2 separate regions of the Homo sapiens genome follow, and region 2 is linked to region 1. A link means that fine-mapping ties the variant in region 1 to the expression of a gene that starts in the linked region. Tissue or cell type: whole blood. Region 1 holds a variant in brackets; the other region holds the start of a gene. All regions are shown on one strand. Distances are from middle to middle.

Region 1 (8,105 bases):
CAAGAATTCTGTTGGTAGAAAATGCCCACCCTGTCCTTACAGGAACAGCACAAGGCTAGGCTTGTCTACCTCCCACCAGGACCTCGAAGGAACATGACCCAGGGGCTGAAGGATGGTGTTGAAGGACCGAGTTTTACTCAGATCCTTCTCAGCCCTGCCTTCCTGAAGTTTCTGTATCCACTACACTGGAAGCTTTCTGAAAAAAATGCCTGGAACCTGTCCATTGTTACCCCAGCCCAGGGCCCAGCCAAAGAACTTAACAAATAACCGCCAAGGAAATCCTCACCTAAAATGGCTGCGATGCATTACTGCCCCCGCCTCTGGCTTACAGTATCACTTCTGCATCTGAAACCAGGAGGGGGCAGTCTGGGTCCACGACGAGACATTTCCTTCTAGAGAAAATCACACCTGCAAAGACCCTCTCCAGAGCCACCGCCCACCTCCGCGCAGCCATCCATTCCCTGCGAAGATGCTTTGGGCTGAAAATGGTTGGGAGGAGGGGGATGGAAGTCGCCTACGTTATTTTGGAATTGACCAGGGCCTCTGAGTCCTTCAAATTCAACAATTTACCACAGGCCCGCGTGCGGTGGCTCACGCCTCTAATCCCAGCACTTTGGGAGGCCAAGACAAGTGAACATCTGAGGTCATGAGTTCAAGACCAGCCTGGCCAATATAGTGAAACCCCATCTCTACTAAAAATAGATGAATTCGGCCGGGCGCGGTGGCTCACGCCTGTAATCCCAGCACTTTGGGAGGCCAAGGCGGGCGGATCACGAGGTCAGGAGATCGAGACCATCCTGGCTAACACGGAGAAACCCCATCTCTACTAAAAATACAAAAAATTAGCCGGGCGTGGTGGCGGGCGCCTGTAGTCCCAGCTACTGGGGAGGCTGAGGCAGGAGAATGGCGTGAACCCAGGAGGTGGAGCTTGCAGTGAGTCGAGATCGTGCCACTGCACTCCAGCCTGTGTGACAGTGAGACTCCGTCTCAGAAAAAAAAAATATATATATATGAATTAGATGGACATGGTGGCACGTGCCTATTAATTCCAGTTACTCAGGAGGCTGATGCACGAGAATCGCTTGAACCCAGGAGGCAGAGGCTGCAGTGAGCCAAGATTGTGCCACTGCACTGTCAGCCTGGGCGACAGAGTTTTTGAGACAGTCTCAAAAACAAAAACAACAAAAAAACCCACTACCACAGTGCCTAGAGAACAATATGTGTTTAATAATATTTAAATAATGGTTGTATAAAATTGAAGCAGCAAGAAACCCAAAGGAGAATAGCTCTAGGGGAGGGAGGTGGATGAGTATGCATGGGGGAGAGGCTCTTCTGTGACCAGGTTGGGTCTGGAGCCCTCCCCACTGTCCAGAACACCTCCAAGCCCCTACATCTTTTTCCATATACCAACGCCTTGGAGATATAATGCAGAAGTGAAGTGAGCAGGCTGAGGATTAGGGCAGGTGTCTGGAATATGGTCAGGAGTGGGAGGGGAGTGACATAGCTCACAGGCAAGGCAGAACAGCACAAAGGCTATAGGTTTCATTCCCAGCCCTCAACTTAAAAGACCTCAGGGGCAGACACTGACTCCAGCCTGGCTGTGCCCTTACCCTAACGCCATTCACACTTTTTTTTTTAAACACAGGTAATCCATGTTTATTATAGAAAAATGCCACATTACTCTTTATTGAATGCGAGCGCCAGCACCGGCCCCTTTCTCTCCAAGCACAGGGGCACGCAGGCAAGGGGCACGAAGGCAAGGGGCTCCGTCCCCTGGCCAGGATGCAGTGGAAGCCTGGCTCCACTACCATTCACCTACAGCCAGCACCCTCCTCGGTGCCTGGGGCTCAGGTCTGTTCAAACTCCTGCTCACAGAAGCCTACATTGAGGGGTTGGGCCTGGACACCTCGCCTGCAAGAGGACATGAAGAAATGGCAAGATAAGCCCCTCAGAAGGGGCCCCAGCAACACTTTTCACACCAGTCAACAGTCTCTCCTTCCCCATTTCGGTGACTCTCAAACTGTCACTGTACACCAAATGCACCTGGGAATCTCAATTCCAGAGATTCTCACCTGGGGTGGGGCAAAGTATTGGCAAGAATCTGCAAGCTGAACAGGTGCCTCAGGTGATTCTGATACAGGTCTTGGAGATCCAGAAACGTTGGCGACATCTATTTATATCCTGCCCATCTCTGTACCCTAACCCCAAATAACTCAATCCCTTTAGAATATAGATGGATGTCTGAAAGGCAGCCAATGCTCTTGGTCTACTTAGCCCTCTGTTCCTGACTCTAAAATGCTGTAAATATGGTGGCACTGGGGGACTTAGGTGCTGTCCTGTCCATGAACATGGATGCGAAATCCTGTCCTTGGGTCTCAGTCTATAACCTGACCAATCTCCTTAGGGGACCTCTAGGCATGCTTCCCTTATCATCCAAGTAAGCAACATGCTTAGAGAACCAGCTGGAAGTTACCCAGTGAATGACATAATTGAGGCTTAGACACCATCATGCTTGACTCTCAGCCCAGGACTCTGCTCTGCACTAGGCTATGTCCCCCAAGTACTCAAGACCTAGCCAACGAAGGAATCAGGGAAATGACTATCTTACACAGGCACATCCCTGACAGAGGCAAAGGTGTCATGACATCCTGTAAGTCAGCCTGGTTCAAATCCTGCTTCTTAGTGACTTTGGGCAAGGTCCTGAACTCTGTGCTTCAGTGTCTATCTCTAAAATGCACCTGTCTCATGGGGCTGTGGTGAAGACTAAATGAGACAATATTTGTAACAAACTTAGCACAGTGTTTGCCACAAAATACAGTTGTCCCTCAGTATCCACAGGGGATTTGTTTCAGGACCCCCGTGGATACCAAAATCCAAGGATGCTCAAGTCCCTTATATAAAAATGACATAGTATTTGCATATAACCAATGTACAACTTCCCATATACTTGAAATGATCTTAGATTACTTATACCTAATACAATATAAATGCTATGTAAATAGTTGTTATACAGTATTTTTTATTTGTACCATTTTTTGTTGTATTTTTTTTTTCCTGAATACTTTTTATCGCAGTTGGTTGAATCCGTGGATGAGGGCTGACTATAAGCCTCTGTAAGTGTTAGCTATTGTTAATTATTGTCTTCCTCTCTCTAAGGGGTTCCCCAGCCCTGGATCTGGCCTGCTCCGCCTTGCGAAGGCCCCACAGCTTGCTTACCTCAGCAATTCACAGCGGAAGTGTGACAAACGTTCATAGGCAAATGTCAGGTCAGATGTCAACTTGTTGCTCCACAGCCTTTCGGCAACAGCCCCTGCTCTGGGCCTGGAGGAAAAGGGGCATGTGCCAGATTGGGCCCTGTATTCCCTGCAAAGGTGCTGGACATCCACAGGCTGCTACCTCTTGTCTAGGCACCCTGGACTCACTCAGGCCAAAGGAAGTGATCAATACCTTGTTATGAGCCACAGCCAGGTTGGATGGCTCCCAGAGAGTTCTACGGCTCAGCTCCACCTTCATTAAAATGTGGGTAGCAATCCCACTCTCTTCCTCTCTCAAAGATATGGGAATAAGAATAAACCTTAAAGCCATCATTAACCACAATGACAGTGGCAGCAGCAGAGGTCCTTAAAATGTAAACTTTGCACACCCAACCATACTTGGTAAGGCTGCAGTGAAAACAGCAGAGGGAAGCCTTATTACAGGAATCATGGATGCTTGTGCTGGGTCTTGAGCAACTCACCTATGTTCTCCAGGCCTCATTATCTCTCTGGGAAGTAAGGTTAACAATCCCTATCCCACATACCAAAGGGCAGCTGGAGGGATATAGACGGAAGTCATGTGGAGAGTGAATATTGCACACAAATCTTCAGAAGGCTCGTTGCACGGCCTGCTCTCTCTCAGGCCTGAAAGAAGGGTACTAGTCCAGAGGTGGCTAGATGGGATTGGGTCTCTAAGGGAGAACTCCTGCTCTCAGGCCCAACCCTCCACCTCCCCCCCGAAAACCCTTACCAGAGCCTGGGGACCAGGTTTGTGTTGTCCACATATTCTCCCCACATACAAGCCTCTCCACCAATCACCAGAGCCTTCTGCTCAGGGGTACCTGAGGGAAAACAAGCAACAACAGTCTGGTGATGGTGGGGTAACTCCAGGGTCCCTCTCAACCACCTTCCCAATGTGGCCCTCACCCCAGCTAAGTTGTTTCATTTACTAACTGGAAATGTCTGGCCCAGACCTTCCTGCCTCCCATCCTGTGCCCCAACCCAGCCTCCTTTGGTTAGCAAGGAGAGCTCTCTGCTTTCACCTTCAAATGCCAGGGGTTCCACTATGTAGAAATCCTTCCAGTCAGGGCCATAGGATATACGGTTCAGGTACCAGGGGGCAGAGAGAAGGGCCCGGAAGCCGGCCTTGGTGACCAGTTCCAGCTCCTTCATATAGT[T/C]CACTGGAATATCCTCTCGCCACACCTGTATGATTGTGTCTGGCTGAATCTGTTATAAAAGGTCAAATGGCAGTAAGGACACAAAGCTGAGGAGATTCCTGGGCCTTATTCATACACAGGCAACATGGGACAACAGGTATGTGCTCCCTCTGTTCCCCAGCAGCAAAGTATGTCTCTGTGACTCCTGACCATTGAGCTCACACCTCAGGACAGAGGCCAAGGAATCCAGGGCCCTAAGAGGCCTCCCTGCAGCTCTCCTCCCCGTCCCTCTGCAGCCTCCCTGTCCACACAGAGCTAGTAATACCAGCTGTGAGCTGAGGGAGGCAAGCAGTGGGACCCAGGAGCTGCCATGTCCAAAAGTCTCCAGATGTTTCTGGGGACGGGACAAGGTTCCTGAAGAGTCCTTGCATGTGACAGGAGACTGGGATCTTACTGATCAACAATAAAGGAGAAGGTAACCTTGGTCCCACAGACCCAGAAGACCCTCATCTATGATTTAGGAAGAAAAATCCAGCCTATCCAAGTAACCTAACAGCAGAAATAGTTCTTAATTAAGTTTGTAGTGAGGGAAGATAGAAACTCTGACACATAAACCCAGGGCTCATACCACAGCGGCCTTTGGTTTTTTTGAGGCAGGGTCTCACTCTGTTGCCCAGGGTTGAGTGCAGAGGCACATCTTGGCTCACAGCAACCTCTGCCTCCTGGGCTCAAGCAGTACCCCAACCTCAGCCTCCTGATTTTTGTATTTTTTGTAGAGATGAGGGTTTTGCTATGTTGGCCAGGCTGGTCTTGAACTCCTAGGCTCAAGCAATCCCCCTGCCTTGGCCTACCAAAGTGCTTGGATTACAGGCGTGAGCCACTGCACCCAGCACTCTGTGGCCTTTCTAGAGAGAAAAGGAGAGTGCTCCGACCATTAAAGCCCAATCCAAACCAGGAGGATCAGTCTCTGTAGAGGCAGGGAGGAGCTGGGGAGACCAGAGGGAGGCACTGCTGGTGGCTTCTTCTCTTCTCTGCCCCGGCTCACCTTTACTTTATTATCAAACACCTCCTGCCACACCACATAGCCCTTGCCATAAGAAGAGACGATGTCCAGCAGCCTGGAGAGGAGAGGAGTGTCTAGTAAGTGTCTGCTTAGCTCAGATGGGTTCTAGACTGTTTGTGCCAGTGCTCTAGGGGTTGAGCCTGGCCAGGGGCCTATTCCTCATTAAGCAGTGTCTTTCCCCTGGGCTGAAAACCAACCACTCCAAATCTGAAAGGATGGGACAAAGGACAAGGGAACCCTGCAGGGACCAGACAGTGGCCAAGCAGGGCCTGACTCGGTATGGAAAGGGAGGACCCCACAGGAGGACCCCCAAGGGACCCCACCCACCCTCCTTCCTTCCTCACGTCTGGATGTAGAAGGACTCCAGCTGCTTGAAGTCCTCACCGAAGCCTTTCTTCCTCATAAAGTCCTGGATCTCTGGGTTGGACTTCCTGAATCCCAAGAGAAAATGAAGATTAATCTTTCAACATCCTGAAAGCCTAATGCCTGGGGATTAGTCACCTGGCCCCCTATAACTTCCTCTTTTCACCTGAAAAATCAAATAAGCAAGGATCTCAGAAGCCCTACATGTGGAAAGTGTGGCCAAGCAAAGTTATGTGAAGCAGGTGGGCTGTTGACACAGGCTGAGAAAGGCTGAGTCTGGACCTGAAGAGTTTTAAGTTCAAACTCCCAAAGAGAAAACATATTAATCCTCTCTGGACTGCAACATGAGAATCCAAGGTCTTAACTTGAAGCTCCAGCACACTGGATTTCGGCTTTCCTATCTGCTCTTCCAGTTGGATGACAAGCCTTGCTGTCTAACACCTGCTGCAGATCCCTTGCGTTATGACGTCCACATTTTGCTCACATTGTTCTCCTTCTGGAATATTTTCCCCTGCTCACATCTCCAAAAAGCCAAATTGATTTCCCCAGATTCAGCTCTAGCGCCCTCTTCTCAAAGAAGCCCCTCAGCCTCTTTTGAGCTTACTAGAACCAAGGGTTTGGACTTTACAACTGAATACTAATTAGACATTGTCACCTATTAGTCTTGAATTCTGTGTCTTGACTCTTCAACTAGACAATTTTAAGCCTTCATAAACAGGGATTATTTTTCTCTATCCCGAACTTTTCCAAGACAATTCTGTGCCCAGGGCTGTTTTTTCTATCAATACCTCAAGGATATGAGAGTAGGAAGGAAGAGGTTCACAGTGAAAGCCTTGCCAAAATCAGGTAGGATCTCTACGTAGATGGGCAGAGGAAGGCCTAAGACCTGAGCAATGTGAGCCCATACAGACCCCTGAGAGCAGCAGCTGAGCTAAGCAGCCCCTCGGGTGCTAACTTCTATTCTGAGTAAGCAACTGATCAGGCCACAGTGGGAAGATCAAAGGGCTCATACCAGCAGGTGAAATCAACCTCATCTCCTCCAAGATGAAGATAAAAATCTGGGAAGACAGAGCTGACTTCTAAGAAGAATGTGCTCATGAACTCATAGGTATTATTGAGACTGGGATTCACTGGTCCAAAGGTGCCAGAGGGCTCAGACCCAGAGTAGCAAGGAGTCAGTAATCCAGGGATACCTAAGCCAAGAGAAAACCCCATATGAGTGTCACAAATACATAAACCCCCACGCACAGTCCTACACGTAAGGACACGAGTCACACAAAGCAAGACAAGTGTATTCATAAACATCACACACATTTAGGTAGGCACACTTAGGCACTCACAGACACTGGTAGTCACCACCATTTAGTCACAGTAAAAAGATACAAATATATCCACAATCATAGGCAGAGGCTAAGTTCCAGCCAGACAACTGTCAGTGCGCACACTCTTGCCTGGACACACTGCTTCTAGCAGGTGCTACCCTTGCTCCCAAGGCTGCTCTCCTCACAGGCCTTGAGGCAGAGAGAGAGCCTAATCCAGCCAAACTGGCAAAATCTTTCTTCTCTATCTCCTCCTGTAGGTGGGGTCAACCATCACCCAGAATCTTTTTACATTTGCTAAGGGATATCTCCCTTGGCCCAGAGACTACTTCCTGACGCTGAGGTCACAAGATATCTTCAGGGTTTTTTTTTGGTTGTTGTTGTTTGTTTGTTTTTGAGACAGAGTCTTGCTCTGTCGCCCAGGCTGGAGTACAGTGGCATGATCTTGGCTCACTGCAACCTCTGCCTCCTGGGTTCAAGCGATTCTCCTGCCTCAGCCTCCCGAGTAGCTGGGATTACAGGCGCCTGCCACCACGCCTGGCTAATTTTTGTATTTTTAGTAGAGATGGAGTTTCACCATGTTGGCCAGGCTGGTCTTGAACTCCTGACCTCAGGTGATCCACCCGCCTTGGCCTCCAAAAGTGGTGGGATTACAGACATGAGCCACCACGCCCGGCCAATATCTTCAGTTTTCTATCAGGCCAGTAGCCCTTTTCAACTGTCATTTAACCTGTGTTGGGGGCTCACACTGGAGGGCTGAGGGTATACAGAAGAAAGGGAGCAGGGGTACTGACTGACTCTGACCTCTGCAGGCTGCCCTTGGGCTTCTTTCTTTCAGATTCTACCCTGGTGGTCAGATTCCTCAGCATCCACTCTAGGCACAACTACCTGCAACGGCATCTGAGAAAAATGTGCCCTTACATAGTCTAACAGTACATATTTTAATAGT
Region 2 (8,105 bases), 29 kb after region 1:
GTTAAAGTATAGTTAGCCGCTAGCCCAATTAAAGTGGAGAGAACTAATCGGCCTTATTCTTTCTCCCCAGCCCAGCTGCTTGACCTTATCTGTTTCCCTCCTAGATGCAATCCCAATGCATCTCTCACTGCATGCTGAGTTAAGAGCAGCACGAGTTGGGATCACACAATAAGCAGCATAGTGTGATTATCCTTTGCCTGGAATCACACACTTACACTCCAAATTGGTAACCTGAAAGGAAAGGTAATCCTCAATGAAAACCTGCAAATCATATCTTTTTGATGATCTTCTCAGACCTGTAATCCCAACACTTTGGGTGGCTGAAGCAGGCAGAGTGGTTGAGCCCAGGGGTTCGAGACCAGCTGGGGCAACATGGTGGTACTCCATCTCTACAAAAATTAGCTATGCACCTGTAGTCCCAGCTACTCAAGAGGCTGAGATGGGAGGACAGCTTGAGCCTCGGAGGTCGAGGCTGCAGTGGGCTGTGTTTGTGCCACTGCACTCCAGACTGGGTGACAAAATAAGACCCTGTCTCTAAAAGAAAAAAAAAAAAAAAAAAAAAAGAAAACAAAACCCAAACCCATAAAGCCTTCTTACAAATGTTTACACAAAGTAGCTCTTTAACGTTAATATATTTTACAAATAATTACTACATATCTACAACGTTCCAGATACAGAAGAAATGGCCAAAGAAGGTATTTTAGGAGATCCAGATTATAATGAACTATGCCATTTATTAATTTAGTCACTTCTTTAATATCTGAGGATGAGCAAATCAAATACTGATAATGGCTGCAGAAGGACACAGGCTCTTATATAATAATCTTACTTCCATTCCAGAATAAAAGGGCTGGAGAAGGGGGGCAGGATTATTCTGTTGAAGGACAATGGCATCCTCAGCAACTCACAGGGATGTGCAGGTGAACATCAGACCAGGATGGGAACCTTATAATATCTATGATATACTATGGCTTCTATCAACCAGTTTCAGGAAAAGCAAAGAAGAATGCAGTCATGGCCAGGTGCAGTGGCTCACACCTGTAATCTTGAGGTGGGCAGATCACATGAGGCCAGGAGTTCGAGACCAGTCTGGCCAACGTGGTGAAACCCCATCGCTACTAAACCCCGTCTCTACTAAAAAATAAAAAATTAGCCAGGCATGGTGGTGGGTGCCTGAATTCCCAGCTACTTGGGAGGCTGAGGCAGGATAATCACTTGAACCCAGGAGGTGGAGGTTGCAGTGAGTCAAAATCACACCACTGCATTCCAGCCTGGGCAACAGAGCAAGACTCCATCTCAAAAAAAAAAAAAAAATGCAGTCTAATGGCAGAATTAGACTTAGCCACTTTACTTGGAAAAATTTGGACTTTATCAGCTCCATCAAGCACCATGCTCCACACCATGCTTATTAAATGTCTGGAGCAACATTAGATGGGTGCCATTCCAAATTCCAAATAATCACATCTTTGCTTTGCAAACAGGATGTGGCTTAATAATCAAACAGGGAACTAGATTCATTCAAGTATCTAGTTCCTAAAATAAGTCTATTTAACAGGTTCAACAACATGCAACACACACCCTCCAATTGGTAGAAACACCTCTCAATGACAAAGAAAGGTGGCAAATACTAAACACCTTCACAGACCATTTAGCAACTGGTGGGACTAACCCTTGAAGGTGAATTCAAAATAGAACTGAACCTCAATACCAGACTTCTTTTTCAGAAAAGGGAGTATGAATTCTTAGTTTCAGGTTCAGACAAAAACCAGAAGTTGTATTGCATTAGGAAAAACACTGGGCTGGTCAGGTGGCTCATTCCACCCTGTAATCCCAGGACTTTGGTAGGCCAAAGCAGGGGGATCACTTGAGCTCAGGAATTGGAGACCAGCTTGGGCAACATGGCGAAACCCCATCTACAGAAAATACAAAAATTAGCCAGGTGTGGTGGCATGCTCCTGTGGTCCCAGCTACTCAGGAGGCTGAGGTGGGAGAATTGCTTGAGACCGGGAGGCAGAGGTTGCAGTGAGCCAAGATTGTGCCACTGAACTCCAGCCTAGGTGACTAAGCAAGATTCTGTCTCAAAAAAACAAAAACAAACAAACAAACAAAACCTACTGGCCCAGAGCCTACAAATAAGTTGTTTGGAGGAAGAGGATGGAAATCTGTTAGTTAAGATTTAACCTGCATATGTTGCCTTCTTTACTAAAATCAGACTCATAAAGAAATGTATTCTGGCTTCAGCCTTGTTGGTATTGCTCTACCTCTATTTGTTTCCCATGCTATTGCTTCATCCTTGTTTCTGCAGAACTAGGATTTTAGCTCAAAGTCACCTAAAAGCCTCCACAGGAAACTACATTCCAAAGGGAAGACTCCATGGGAAGAGCAATAGAGAAAGAAGTTACTTTTAAGTCTTTGGTAATGTTCACCCAACCCAGTTTTCATTTTCTCTCAATGGACAAGAACCCTCAACTAATAAAGCTAATGAACTTACAGGAAGGTAATATATGGAAATAAACATCTTATTGAATTTATCTGGCTCTAAATCTCTTTTGTTAGGGAATTTATAGTATTCCATTATCTTACAATCTCTCCATTTCTATCTACTTGATTAAACTATGGTGCTATAGCAATGGAGGTGAAGGCCTAATTTAGAAGTATAGGAATTAGGTATGGCGCGGTGGCTCATGCCTGTAATCTCAGCACTTTGGGAGGCTGAGGTGGGTGGATCACTTGAGGCCAGGAGTTTGAGACCAGCCTGGCCAACATGGTGAAACCCCATCTCTACTAAAAATACAAAAATTAGCTGGGCGTGGTGGCAAGCACGTGTAGTCCCACCTACTCGGGAGGCTGAGGCAGGAGAATCGCTTGAACCCAGGAGGCGGAGGCTGCAGTGAGCCAAGATCGTATCACTGCACTCAGCCTCAGTGTAGGCTGAGTGATAAAGCGAGACTCCGTCTCAAAAAAAAAAAAAAAAAGGAAAGGAATTATTCTCATGTATACAATAGTAGGAAACAACCTATAAAGCTTTTGAGAATCTTATAATTCACTGTGTACCTCCCTCTGTTTCATATTTTCGCAATTGAACTATAGAGCCTAGGCCTAGGTCTTAAGACTTTTCTTGTAACCTTCAGAGTGCCCAGCACTGGGATTGACATATACCAGTTAGACGGATTTTTTTTTCCATAAACCAGGCTCAAACTCTTCTAAACCAAAATCAACATATTCTGAGTGCCAATCTTGGGTAAGGCACTCTATTATTTGTCATGAAGGATTCAGAGGAAAATGTGATCTACCACACTCAACAGCAGGCCTCTTATCCTCTCCAGCTTAATGCATTTTACCAGTTAAGGACTACCCTGATGCTGAGATTGTGTTTCTTTCCCCAAATCAAATGTCACTCTCTAAGGGTCATCTGTATAATTAAATGCTTTTAATTCTATATATCAAATGATAACTTTTGTGAAAGTAATTTAAACACACTTGAAACATCATATAAAATATTACTACAAGACTTAACCGTAAATGTGGCTCCCACCCCCATAACATCTATACAATATAACCAAAGAGCTAGATTCCAGATTATCAAGAAACTTCTAAATTTTGAACCCATGCAGCAGAATTGTATTCCTTTACATTGTTGGCTCGACTTACAAATGTGCTGTGGAATAATTATCCTCAAATACAATTTTCAGTACTGATTACATAGCTGCCTAAAAGAAAACTGTTAGCCCCTTCCATTTTATGTGAAACCAATGTCTAAAGCGCTCTTGACTCTTCAACCCCACATTTTCCCCACCCTCATCCCTCCTCAATCCCCAGCCCCCACTCATCACATCCACTAGACCTGAACTTTGAACTCAATCATAATTCTTTGTGCCTCTGCTCAAGCCCTTCTTCCTGCCTGGAATACCCTCTTTTCAGTCCCGGCTAATTACATCTACCATCCCATTCCAAGTGGCCGCTGGAAACTCACTTCCTTATGTTCTATGATTTCTTTCACAATTTACACTTTTTTTGTTTTGTTTTGTTTTGTTTGGGGGGGGGGGTTGTTTTTCTGAGAGGGAGTCTTGCTCTGTTGCCCAGGCTGGAGTGCAGTGGCGCGATCTCAGCTCACCACAACCTCCACCTCATGGGTTCAACCGATTCTCCTGCCTCAGCATCCCGAGTAGCTGGGACTACAGGCGCGCGCCGCCACGCCTGGCTAATTTTTTGTGTTTTTGGTAGAGACGGGGTTTCACTATGTTGGCCGGGCTGGTCTCGAACTCCTGACCTCGTGATCCGCCCGCCAAACATTCTATGTGCCAGAAACTTGTATGTAACTTTGCATAGTTCTTGTATTATGTCTCCCCAATTTTGAGTGTTTTCTCTGGTCTCTACTCAGCCCTTGCTCACAGTCTCACTAGGACCCTGGCTAGCTTGAACACGGTCAGAAGGATCACCTTAGATTTCTGCTGGCACAGTATTTTCCATAAATTAATCTCCTGATTGAACCGTAGTCCTATAGTAGTTATCTTTGGATGAAAACCTAATGCAGCTCGAGGAGGAAGTGGAGTGCCTGTGATCAGAGGGCTGGACAAAAGCCCATAGGGCGTCTCTGGAGCCCTGGGGGAACTGTCCCCAGGCAGGCACTCTCAGGGCCCAGGAACAGGGCGGGACAAGTCCGACTCACCTGTGAGGTAAGGACGGGGCCAAGACCCGGAACCGAAAAGCAGGTCACGATAGCGCTGGAAGGCCTCGTCGAGGACTGAGCAGCCGGGCTGCGCGGCCGAGCTGACATCGTACTGGAATTGAAAGTTGTTCGGGTAAAGGACGTAGCGCTGGTCGGAGGTTTGGAAGTTCTGAGGCCAGGGCCAGAGGGCCGTCGCCCGTCCTGCGAACGCTGCCGCCAGCAGCAGCGAAAACCAAAGCCTGGAGCTTGTCATGGCCCGCTGGTCTCCCCTCTCGGAGGGGGCTGGCCACGTGAGACCCTGGTCAGGTGAGCGGCGCCCCCGTGACTTATCGGCGAATCACGTGACCAGAGGCGGCTCTGCGCCTGCGACCCCAGGAGGACCCACACCCTGCCCTTTCACTTCCGGCCTGGACCTGAGGCTCCTGCTACGTGCAGCGGATTGTGCCGGGCGTCGGCAACTGCTCGGCTCGCCAGACTGTTCACGGGCCCAGTAGAGCAGTAAATAACCGGCCACCCCTGCGGCCGTGCCGGCCGTGATGGAACTAGACAGCTCACCCGACTCGAGAAGAACGGGGTGGGGAGGCGAGGACGCAGGGCGACCTGGAGAAGAAAGTTTCCCAGATGGCTCTAGGGTGAATCTTGAATGTTGTGATGCAGCTCGCCAGGCCTACGGGGAGGTAAAGGACTTGCCAGGCTGAAGTAACTTCAGAAGCAGAAAAACGGAGGATTAAAACCACAAGTCGTTGTGATGTGAAATTTCGTGGGGCAAGAAAGGGCCGGAAGTAGGTAGTCTGCACGGCTCTGCTAGAGAGAGGATCACAAGATCACACAAATGTGATCTACTTATGACTGGAAAAAATGTGTACTTTCAGAGCCAGCTTGAGGCATTCCATTGCCTCCAATATGAGCTCTTCCCTTCAAGATTGACTATAAATCTCTTAGTTACAACTCACATCCCCTTTCCCCAGACAAAACCCCACATAGCCCGGTGTGTATTTACTGAAAGCAGTAAGATATTGCTGGGGCTTTGGGTGCAAGATGGAGAGTGCTCAGAGATAATGACAGGGGCCTGGTCCTGCAGGGCCTTACGTAGAAAGTCAAGGAATTTATTCTCTGAGCAATTGAAAATCATCCCGAAAGATCTGCATTTTAGAAATACCATGTTGAGTAGTTGCATAAGAAACCAGTTAGGAGGCCCCTTTTTATTGGAGGTAGAGAATAATGAGAGACTGAACTACAGAAGTGGGGAAGGAAGACAGCTGTAGATCCAAGAAATAGTATCCGGAAGAGAGGCTTGAGAAGTGATCAAGGAGAATTCCACAGTTATCAGAGACCCTGTCTTCCTTGTTCACCACTATATTACCAGAACATAATACAAATAATGCTATTGTTATTGGGTGGCATTATTTGGTTAGTAGGTACTTTTTAAAATTTTTAAATTTAATTTTAGTATTAAAATACATGTAAAGATCAGGAAAATGAACTTTTAAAAATAAAGGGCTTTCACTGGGCATGATAACACATCCCTGTAGTCCCAGCTACTCCCAGCTATTCAGGAGGCTGAGGCGGCAGGATCACTTGAACCAAGGAGTTCAAGTTTAGCCTGGGCAGTATAGTGAAACCCTTTCTCAAAAACAAATAAAGGGCTACTGAAATAATGATAATTTATATTCAGGTCGTAGGTACCTAATTACTAGTTACACATACATGGCTTTGATGGGAAATCAAAGAAACATTCTGACAATACAGAGATTCATCAAGCAATTTGTCTTTGAAAGTTGATTATTCAAAAACAGAGCTTGTAGCAAAAGAAGCAGAAATTAGATCCCACAGTCATCAAGTTTCAGATCCTAAGGCTTGCATTCTTACACCAATTTCTTCTTTGCTTAAATCTTAATTTTCATCAGCATTAATTAAGTGTCTGGGTACTCTGCCAGTCAGGAGAGATGTTACCAAAGGTACAGGATTTGAGAAGTATTGTCAGAAGAGCCAAGTTCATAATCAGGCCCACAGGATCAATAATTTGGGGGAGTGTTTAGAGCAGTTTCAAAGATGAGAGCAGTAGATCAAAGTAGAATTTCAGGACTGAGCACATGCCAAGGCACCCTTTTATGGATATTCAACCTGTACCAGAAGGGAGGAGTCATTTACTTAAAAGAGTTACACAAGATGAAAGAGCTAGATCCAAATAAAGACGCTATAAAAATTACTAATGGGGCTGAGCATGGTGGATTACAGGGATTCAGTTATTTAATTATTACTGAAAGAGCTCTTTTAGACTTAACCAGATTTTTAAACCAAATATTCTTATGCATACATAAAAGTAAGTTACACAAGATAAATTTGTTGATCTTCCAAAATATCCCCCCTTACTATACACTAGAGTGGGGTTTTGGCATAATGGCAGACAAATAGATGGAACGGAATAGAGGGTCCAGGAAAAGAGCCATTTGATTATTACTCCATTTCAATGAAGACACCAATTTAATTTAGTGGGGAAGGCAAGTTATTTTCAATAAAAGGTGATGAAGAAAATAGATATCCCTATGTGGGAAAAATGAACTATGATCCCCTACCTCACAGCATACACAAACTTAATTAAAAATGGATCACAGGCTGGGGATGGTGGCTCACACCTGCAATTCCAGCACTGTGGAAGGCCAAGATGGGAGGATCACTTGAGCCCAGGAGTTCAAGATCAGCATGGGTAATACGAGGAAATCCCATCTCTCTTTATTTTTTTCTTTTTTGAGATGGGGGTGGTTAATGGGTACAAAAAAAGTAGCCTGAATAAGACATACTATTCGAGAGCACAATAGGGTGACTATAGTCAATAATAATTGTATATTTTAAAAGAGTGTAACTGGATTGTTTATAACTCAAAGGATAAATGATTGAGGGTATGGATAACCCCATTCTCCATGATGTGCTTATTTCACATTGGATGCCTATATCAAAACATCTCAGGTACCCCATAAATATATACACCTACTATATACCAAAAAAACTTAAAATTAAAATTAGACTGGGTATGGTAGCTCATGCCTTAATCCCAGCACTTTGGGAGGCTGAGGCGGGTGAATCACTTCAGGTCAGGAGTTTGAGATCAGCCTGGCCAACACGGTGAAACCCCATCTCTACTAAAAATACAAAAATTAGTGTGGTGGCAGGCACCTGTAATCCCAGCTACTTGGGAGGCTGAGGCAGGAGGGTCACTTGAACCTGGGAGGCAGAGGTTGCAGTGAGCCAAGATCACGCTACTGCACTTCAGCCTGGGTGGAGGTTCTGTCTCAAAAAAAATTAAATTTAAATTTAAAAATGAATAAACAGTTTTTAACAATATGAATTATTTAAATTAGTATATATACAACATTGCCATCAATTTGGACAGTAGATGAATATAAAAAATAATAACATACTGTATATAATATTTGAT

Evidence for each region. PIP is the estimated chance that this variant, and not a neighbour inherited with it, causes the effect.
Region 2: HEXA starts here. The variant in region 1 is fine-mapped to the expression of HEXA in whole blood (TOPMed, PIP above 0.99).

The regions. Positions count from the first base shown.
Region 1 is chr15:72,342,230-72,350,334 of GRCh38, forward strand. It overlaps HEXA (hexosaminidase subunit alpha), which reads right to left. Exons shown (of 14, transcript NM_000520.6): 8 at 6,850-7,030; 9 at 5,819-5,905; 10 at 5,457-5,529; 11 at 4,298-4,481; 12 at 4,006-4,096; 13 at 3,217-3,321; 14 at 1-1,911. The coding sequence ends at 1,848. Among named protein-coding and RNA genes, the nearest start is that of CELF6, 26 kb to the left of the region's middle. RefSeq lists an enhancer at 129-628. The variant T/C (reference allele first, on the strand shown) is at 4,433.
Region 2 is chr15:72,371,051-72,379,155 of GRCh38, forward strand. It overlaps HEXA (hexosaminidase subunit alpha), which reads right to left and starts at 4,964. Exons shown (of 14, transcript NM_000520.6): 1 at 4,670-4,964. The coding sequence starts at 4,922. HEXA-AS1 (HEXA antisense RNA 1) reads left to right here and starts at 5,063. Exons shown (of 1, transcript NR_027262.1): 1 at 5,063-7,738. RefSeq lists enhancers at 4,200-4,755, 4,756-5,312, 5,204-5,343, 5,674-5,723.